3 separate regions of the Homo sapiens genome follow, and all the other regions are linked to region 1. The links come from fine-mapping of genetic effects on gene expression. A gene starts in region 1. Each other region holds a variant in brackets. All regions are shown on one strand. Distances are between the middles of the regions. Region 1 holds the start of RIPOR3 (RIPOR family member 3). Region 2 overlaps RIPOR3 (RIPOR family member 3). Region 3 has its middle 2.6 kb from the start of PTPN1.

Evidence for each region. PIP is the estimated chance that this variant, and not a neighbour inherited with it, causes the effect.
Region 2: its variant is fine-mapped to the expression of RIPOR3 in lung (TOPMed, PIP above 0.99).
Region 3: its variant is fine-mapped to the expression of RIPOR3 in monocytes after Pam3CSK4 (Quach 2016, PIP 0.95). The same link has a PIP of 0.9 or more in monocytes after LPS.

Annotation. Positions count from the first base shown.
Region 1 is chr20:50,689,830-50,692,589 of GRCh38, forward strand. RIPOR3 (RIPOR family member 3) reads right to left here and starts at 1,713. Exons shown (of 22, transcript NM_001290268.2): 1 at 1,297-1,713. The coding sequence starts at 1,299. RefSeq lists an enhancer at 1-2,760.
Region 2 is chr20:50,619,725-50,622,484 of GRCh38, forward strand. It overlaps RIPOR3 (RIPOR family member 3), which reads right to left. Exons shown (of 22, transcript NM_001290268.2): 3 at 262-408. It also overlaps the pseudogene RPL36P2. Among named protein-coding and RNA genes, the nearest start is that of MIR1302-5, 6.3 kb to the left of the region's middle. The variant T/G (reference allele first, on the strand shown) is at 1,541.
Region 3 is chr20:50,506,441-50,509,200 of GRCh38, forward strand. No RefSeq gene overlaps it. Among named protein-coding and RNA genes, the nearest start is that of PTPN1, 2.6 kb to the right of the region's middle. The variant G/C (reference allele first, on the strand shown) is at 1,584.

The DNA of each region.
Region 1 (2,760 bases):
GGAAAGGAGGCCTGGATCAGTACAGAGCTGCTTTGGGATGGAATTTTCCAAGGGAAGAAAAAAGAAAAGGCCACATCTGGGTGCTGGGACCTTTCACTCTGGCCCGATGCCTGGAACCCCAGGGATTCCCCACCTGCTGTGTGTTTCCTGGCCCTTGAGTGTAACCTGCACCCTCCCTTTCCGTGCCAGGGAGACACGAGCTGACTTTATCTGTCTCTTATCTCTTGGCTGCTGCCAGCCACAGCTGCAGGGATATATATGCAAATAGCTTACGATAATATTAATATGTGATTCCCCCCAGGGGAGGCATGTGGAAAGCGCTGTATGCGTTTCACAATTCTGTTTCATCCAAAAACACTGCACGGGCCCAGAGTGATTCGAAACAGATTTTCTGCAAAGGCAAAATAAAATTGGAACAAAACCTAGTTGAGGCATATGCCAGTCTCCCTGCCCCCAGCTCTCTCCACCTCTGACATATTAACCCTCTTCTCTCATGCCCCCAGGAGCCTCCTACGACAAGGCAGCAAATCTAGGAAATTGCACTGGGCACTCTTCGTTCAAGCCTGGAGCCCCTGCCCCATCCCAGGGCAGCCAGCCTCCACCCTGGGCTGACACATCCTTTAGAGAGTAAAAGGCTGCTTGCCAGTGTCAGCCTGTCACTCCTTCTGTCCCACCTCTGCCTCCTTCCTGCAGGTAATGCTCCATCCATACCTCCTTCTCCTTCACCCCTGCTGCTTGGGATAATTGCAGAACCATGGAGCACAGAATACAGAATACTGGGGGTGTACAGGAGAGTTTAGCCAAAGCAAGTCAGAAAAACCTAGGTCTTTTTTCGTTTCTGCCACTGACCGGCTGTGTGACCTCAGCAAGTCACTTCACTTCGCCCAGCTGCTGTTTCCTCAGGGTACAATGAGGACACCAATAATACTTACCCTGCAGGGGGCTTACCGGGATTTCCCGAGCCGACGCTTCAAAAATGCCTACACAGTGCCTGGCGTATAGCAGATACACAAGGAATAGCTGTCATCATGAGAATCTCTTAAAGATCACCTAGTTCAACCACTGTTTTAGAAACGGACAAATGGAGGCCTGCAGAGGGCAAATAACTTGCCTAAGGCCACACAGCACGATACCGCCATCCCATCTCAGCCTCAACCCAGGTTCCCTCCTCCGGCCTTGGGAGCTCCAGGTGGCCTGTGAGGAACGGCTGCCTCCTCCTGTCACCCCCAGCTCCAGAAGTCTGTCCACACAAGGCGGCGTCACGGCACACATGGGGAGCAGTCACTTCACACTCACCATCGAGCAGGTCTGGACACTCGAGTGCAGTCCCGCCGCCCTCCTTGCAGCTGCCTCACTTTCCCTATTGCCGCCAGCAAGCGTCTGCTCCCATCTGGCCCGGGACTCCCGGACTCGAGCTAGGGCTCTGCAAATTCCATCCACACTGGCCACCAGCCGCTGGTCCCGCTCTCTGGGAAGATCGCCTTGAGGACCTGCTGCGCCCCGAGTCTTCCTTCTGGTGCAGGGAGGCCGGTGCCCTGCCGGGCTCTGATAATGCAGCCGGGACTCTTATCTGGCCTGTGTCAGGGTGCAGGCGGCCATGGAGCTGGGGTTCCAGGAAGCCCTCCTGGGGCCCCCCAGCCGGCCCCGCTCCCCCCGGATGCCGCCTGCTGCTCTGGACGCGGCCGATTGCTTGTCAGTGTCACTCCCAGCTCTGCCGGGGGGAATTCCATGCTGGCCCCCAGCAGGCGGGGCCCCCACCCCTTCACGTCCCACCCCCCACTCCCATTTTGGCAAGGGGACTGGGAAAAGGCAGCTAATTTCAAGTCCGCACAGCGTTTGTGGTCGTGTCCTGAATCCTCCACGATTAATCACAGAGCATCTGATTTCTGCTTTGCCTCAGAGAGGGGCGGAGGGGACGCCTGGAAGTTTCTGTTTACTCCATTCTGCACCAGGCTGCGTGCTAATCACAAACAGACTGGGACGCAGCCTACCCCTCCTAAACTGCTCTTGGCCACCCCCTCCCTCCTCCAGCCCTCTCCTTCCTCTTCTTACCTTGTCACTTTCCTCCAGCCCCTTCCTCACTCTTTCTCCTTTCCCTCCTTTCTTTCCCCTTTCCCATCTGTCCGCCTCTTCAGTCCAGATCTGATCCATTGCACACCCCTTCCTTCCGTCCTGGGTTTCCCCCAAGCCCCTTTCCCCCTTTGCGCCTCCCACTTCTCCTAGATTGAGAGTCAGCTTGGTTCTTTCCTTTACATCCATTAGTGAGGGTCAGGCTCTTTTGTTATGTTTTTTTTTCTTTTGTATAACTTAATTATTTCAGGGTTCGGGGTGGGCGCTCGCCCCTTGCCCAGTCACACTGGTGTGTGTGCGACTCCTACAAAGTTAACAGTTTCTCCAGGTCAAGGGGTGGGATCCAGGCTTGGTGATGTGCACAATTTCTTTTGTCCACTTGACACATCTCTGCGTCCTGATTCTGCTCAGGGACGGACCCAAGAACAAAGCAGCCATTTACCGCCTCCGGAGGGGAGGCCAGCCCTGTGGCACATCCAGGGCCTTGGAACACCTAGAGACAGATTTCTCTCCCTCGCCTTGGCTCCTTTCCACTCTGCAGCTAGTGTGGAAAAGAAACCAGAAATAAACAGCACCAAAGAACAGGAACGGACACCCCTCCCCATTAAAGCACACACACAGACTCTGAAGGGTAATTTGGCAAAGACCTCTGAAAACCAGAGATGAGGGTCTCCTACTACTTATGCCTGT
Region 2 (2,760 bases), 70 kb before region 1:
TGCATTGAATCTGCCCCTCTGCAGTGCGTGCTCCACAAGATCAGAGTCCTCCTGCCTTAGTCACTGCCAGGTTTCCAGTGCCCAAGGACCGGGCTGAGCACGCGGCTGCACCCTGACATACTTGCTTACTAAACGAATGACCAGGAACTTAACCTGTCACCTCTTGTAGACAAGACCCATCCACGCTTCCCCAGGAAGAGACAGAGAGGAGGCGAGGTAGAGGAATGCACTTCTTAAAGGCAGCACACAGCCCAGCCTTACTTGAGGCCTCTTTTCAATGCTTCGAAGATCTTCTTCACCTGCTGGGGCTTCGGGTCTGCACAGACCGACCCCTTCCGCAGCGTGCCGTACATCTTGGAGGATTTTGCAGGCATTCGCGATCTCACGGAGTTCCTGTTGATGGACTTTCTGTGAGAAGGGTTGGAGGGCAAGAGAAGTCAGAGAAGGGCCCTGACAAAGCCCTCCCCAGGGGCAGGCACTTTGGAAATAGTGACCAGAGCCACAGGGAGTCAGGAGACCCGGCTCAGTCCCACCCCCATCACCACCAAGCAGTGTGGTTTCCAGAAAGTTATGGAGCCTCTCTGGGTCTCTGCTTTCTCATCTGTAAAATTAGGATCCTGGGCCAGGTGCGGTGGCTCACACTTGTAATCCCAGCACTTCGGGAAGCTGAGGTGGGTGGATCACCTGAGATCAGGGGTTCAAGACCAGTCTGGCCAACATGGCGAAACCCTGTCTCTACTAAAAATACAAAAATTAGCCGGATGTGGTGGTACGTGCCTGTAATCCCACTTACTCCGGAGGCTGAGGCACAAGAATCGCTTGAACCCGGGAGGTGGAGGTTTCAGTGAGCCGAGATTGCATCACTGCACTCCAACCTGGGTGACAGAGTGAGACTCAGTCTTAAAAATAAATAAATAAATAAATAAATAAATAAATAAATAAATAAATAAATAAAAATAAGGAGCCTAGATTTGAGGATTAAAAGAAGAGTAATAAAGCTTTTCCACCATGGCTGCCACTGGAGAGCAGCAGCCATGGCTCTGCGCTACCCTATGGCCATGGGCCTCAACAAGGGCCACAAGGTGACCAAGAACGTGAGCAAGCCCAGGCACAGCCGCTGCAGTGGGTGTCTGACCAAATACACTGAGTTTGTGCGGGACATGATCCGGGAGGTGTGTGGCTTTGCCCTGTACAAGCAGCATGCTATGGAGTTACTGAAGGTCTCCAAGGACAAACAGGCCCTCAAGTTCATCAAGGAAAGGGTGGGGACACACATCCACGCCAAGAGGAAGCAGGAGGAGCCGAGCCAATGTCCTGGCCGCCATGAGGAAAGCCACTGCCAGGAAAGACTGAGCCCCCTCCCCTGCCCTCTCCCGGAAATATAGAACAGCTTGACAAAAAAAAAAAAAAGAACAGTAATAAAAATCTGGTATCAGAAATGAACTTACAGGAAGAAATACAGTCAAGTAGCCCAAATGCCAATGCTCTCTGATCACCATGCTCTGCCTGTGCAGGCAATGCCGTGTGGGAGGCCAAGTCA[T/G]AGTCCTGTGCTTTACCCTTGGGGCAGCATCTGTTGGCTTTACCTGCCCAGCATCCATCCCCTCCCTCTAGTAGTAGCACCTCAATTTTCCTCTGGGGCACCTCCCCAGCTCTGCTTTTTATACTTGTGGTTTGGGGGAAAGGTAGCCTGACTAATCAACATGCACACACACATTTGCACATGCACACATGCACACGGGATTGTTTGGCAAATCCACATTCCAGGCCTGCGTTAGTCAACATATTCTGCTCCCCTGGGCCAAGAAGTATGGGGATCAAGCCTGGCCAGTAGCCAGCCAGGAGTTCAGAATTCACAGAAGGGAGAAGTGTTTTTTCCCCTGGCATTGCTAACCTGGGGAACATATACCTGGGACTTCCAGCCTCCTCCTTTTGCCACCATGTAGGGAAACTGGGGCCAACACAGAGAGGAACAAACAGAGTCAGACCAAATCTCCATGACAGTGAGTTCCTGGATCTAGCTATGTCTAAAGCTGAACCTGCCCGTGGACTTTGCAGTTACATGAGCCAACTGGCTCTCTTTTTTAGCTTAAGCCAGCTGGAGTTGGGAGTGTGGACTGGATGATCCTAAAAACTGCCTTTCAGTGGTGATGGCTGGGTCCCTCAACATTTAGAGATGTAGCAGCATCTCAAGACTGATTATAGGAGTACGAGGCCAGGGCACCCTCATCACAGCACAGAGCTGGTTTCCCTGGCATCTAAGCCTCTTCTCAGGATCCCATAACTTATCCATGAGGCTGGCTGATGCAGCCTTTGCTCACCAACAGATGTGTTGAATTCTGCTCTTAGCCCTCTAAAGCCATCAGCCAGGCGCCCTGGCACCAGGCATCACTTAATGACAACATTCTCACAAAAGAGACATGGTGGAAATGACTCTTAGATCTAACTTTGGCATCAGTTCTCTTTTTTTTTTTTTTTTTGAGATGGAGTCTCACTGTCACCCAGCCTGGAGTGCAATGGTGCAATCTCGGCTCACTGCAACCTCCACCTCCTGGGTTCAAGCGATTCTCCTGCCTCAGCCTCCCAAGTAGCTGAGATTACAGGCATGCACCACCATACCTGGATAATTTTTGTATTTTTAGTAGAGACAGGGTTTCACCATGTTGTCCAGGCTGGTCTCGAACTCCTGACCTCAAATGATCCACCTGCCTCAGCCTCCCAAAGTACTAGGATTACAGGTGTGAGCCACCGTGCCTGGCTCAG
Region 3 (2,760 bases), 180 kb before region 1:
TACTTAGCTTGACATACAGGGACAGGAATGAACCAGCCCTGTTTTTGTTCCAGGATGCTCTCAGGATTGTGAGTTCCAGACAAACCAGAACCCAAAAAGTATAAGGGTTTAAGGGCGGGAGGAGCACAGGAGTCTGGACAGTCACTTAAAGGAACTAAGACTTCAATTAGGTAGCTTCCAAGTGTGGCAGCTCCCACAGTTTTCACTGGAATGGGCATTTTTGTTAATTTTTCCCCTATGGAATGCTCACTTTCTAAAGACACTGCTGATCAAGCTAATTGCATGTATTCAATAACATTTCATTTATCTCCTTTATTTGCTATTATTTAAAGATATGTAGTAATGACAGTTAATATTTATTGAGCCACTCAGTATACTAAGAGCATGATATGTACTCATCCAACCTTCACATCAGCCCTATGAGGTGGGCACTTTTATTATCTCTGTTTTACAAAGGAGAGCAGAGACTAATGAAAATTTGCCCAAGTTTGCACCACTAGTATTTATTCAGCTGGAACCTGGACCCACGAAGCCTGGCTCCAAAGCAGGCTCTGGAAACCAGGCTAGAATGCAGGTTTCCATACCAATGTGCAATGCTACTCTGGACAAGTAATTTTGTCTCTCTGTGCTTCAGTTTCCTCATCCATTTTTTTTTTTTAAGACAGAGTCTTGCTCTGTCACCCAGGCCCGAGTGCAGTGGTGTGATCTTGGCTCACTGCAACCTCTGCCTCCCAGGTTCAAGCAATTCTCCTGTCTCAGCCTCCCGAGTAGCTGGGTCTACAATCACACGCCACCATGGCTGGCTAATTTTTTTGTATTTTTAGTAGAGATGGGGTTTCACCATATTGATCAGGCTGGTGTCGAACTCCTGACCTCAGGCGATCACCCGCCTTAGCCTCCCAAAGTGCTGCGATTACAGGCATGAGTCACCGCACCCGGTCCCCCCCTCATCTAATTTTTTATTTTTATTTTAATTTAATTTATTGTATTTATTTATTTATTTTTTGAGATGGCATCTTTCTCCCGTCGCACAGGCTGGAGTGCAGTGGTTCAATCTCGGCTCACTGCAACCTCCACTTCCCAGGTTCAAGCCATTCTCCTTCCTCAGCCTCCCAATTAGCTGGGATTACAGGTGTGCACCACCACACCCATCTATTTTCTGTGTTTTTAGTAGAGACAGGCTTTCACCATGTTGGCCAGGCTGGTCTTGAACTCCTGACCTTAGGTGATCCACCTGCCTCAGCCTCCCAAAGTGCTAGGATTACAGGTGTGAGCCACCAGGCCTGGCCTATTTTTATTTATTTATTTTTTTTGAGACAGTGTCTCACTCTATCGTCCAGGCTGGAGTGCAGTGACATGATCATGGCTCACTGCAGCCTCAATCTCCCAGGCTCAAGTGATTCTCCCATCTCAGCCTCCTGAGTACCTGGGACTACAGGTGCACGCCACCACAGCCGGCTAATTTTTTTTTTTTTTTTTGAGACAGGATCTTGCTCTGTTGCCCAGGCTGGAGTGCAGTGGTGCAATCTCAGCTCACTGCAGCCTCTGCCTCCCAGGTTGAAGTGATTCTTGTGCCTCAGCCT[G/C]CCGAGTAGCTGGGATTACAGGCATGCACCACCACACCCTGCTAATTTTTGTATTTTTAGTAGAGTTGAGGTTTCACCATGCTTGTCAGGCTGGTCTCGAATTCCTGACCTCAAGTGATGCACCCACCACGGCCTCCCAAAGTGGTGGGATTACAGGCGTGAGCCACCACAGCCAGTCAGTTTTCTCGTTTATAAAATGGGAATAATAGCACCTGTATTGAAGGGTTGTTGTGGAGATTGAATGGGAATGTGTACTTAGAATTCCAGGCATAGTGCCTGCCACAAGCACTCAAGGAATGAGCTGGAGTTCAGCTGATAATACCAGGCAGTGTCTCTGGGCAACACGGAATGAAGACAATTCTCTCTTCCAGGTTTTCAAACCTCCTGGAATTCACAACGTCCACATGACATGCCAGGCCCAGAGGGGGATGGTTTAAACTGGAGCCTGCAGGAAGGCAACCTGACCAACCTGCTCATGGGTGCTTTAAGGATCATAGGTACGAGAATCAGCTGGAGTTGTTGGTGAAAATGCAGATTCCGGGTCTCATCCCTAGACCAAAGATATCTGAATCATTTGGCGATGGGTCCAGGAACCTGCATTATTCAACACACTTCCCAGGTGACCGTAAATGTCAAAAGACAAAATTACAACAAACTTAAACATCTTAATTGGCTTCATTCATGATTCTAGAATCGGGCAAGACTTCATTCCTCAAAATAGCACAAGTGTCCCAATGAGCTGAGCAGAGGAGGTTGGTTTTATAGACAGAAAAGGGCTGAAAAAAGCAGAAACAAAGAACAAAAAGCAGATTGGTCATTTCAAAGTTACTTTCCTTGTAAGGCAGGAACAGGGAAACAGAACAAGAGAGAAATAACTGATTGGTCGCATCGGGTTACTTCAGGTTACTTTTTGTTGTAAGGATTAAAGCAAAGGGAACTTCATTATGTTGATTAAAACGGTCTGCTTGGGAAATCAGGGTGTGTATCTCTCTTCTGATTTTGTGAAAGGTTATCAGTCTGATGATGTAGAACTTTAGCATGAGTGACTCCATTTTGATTTTTAGTCTAGTCTGTTGAGACCCTAATGCCAGAACTTTTTTTGTTTGTTTGTTTCGCTCTTGTTGCCCAGGCTGGAGTGCAGTGGAGCTATCTTGGCTCACTGCAACCTCTGCCTCCA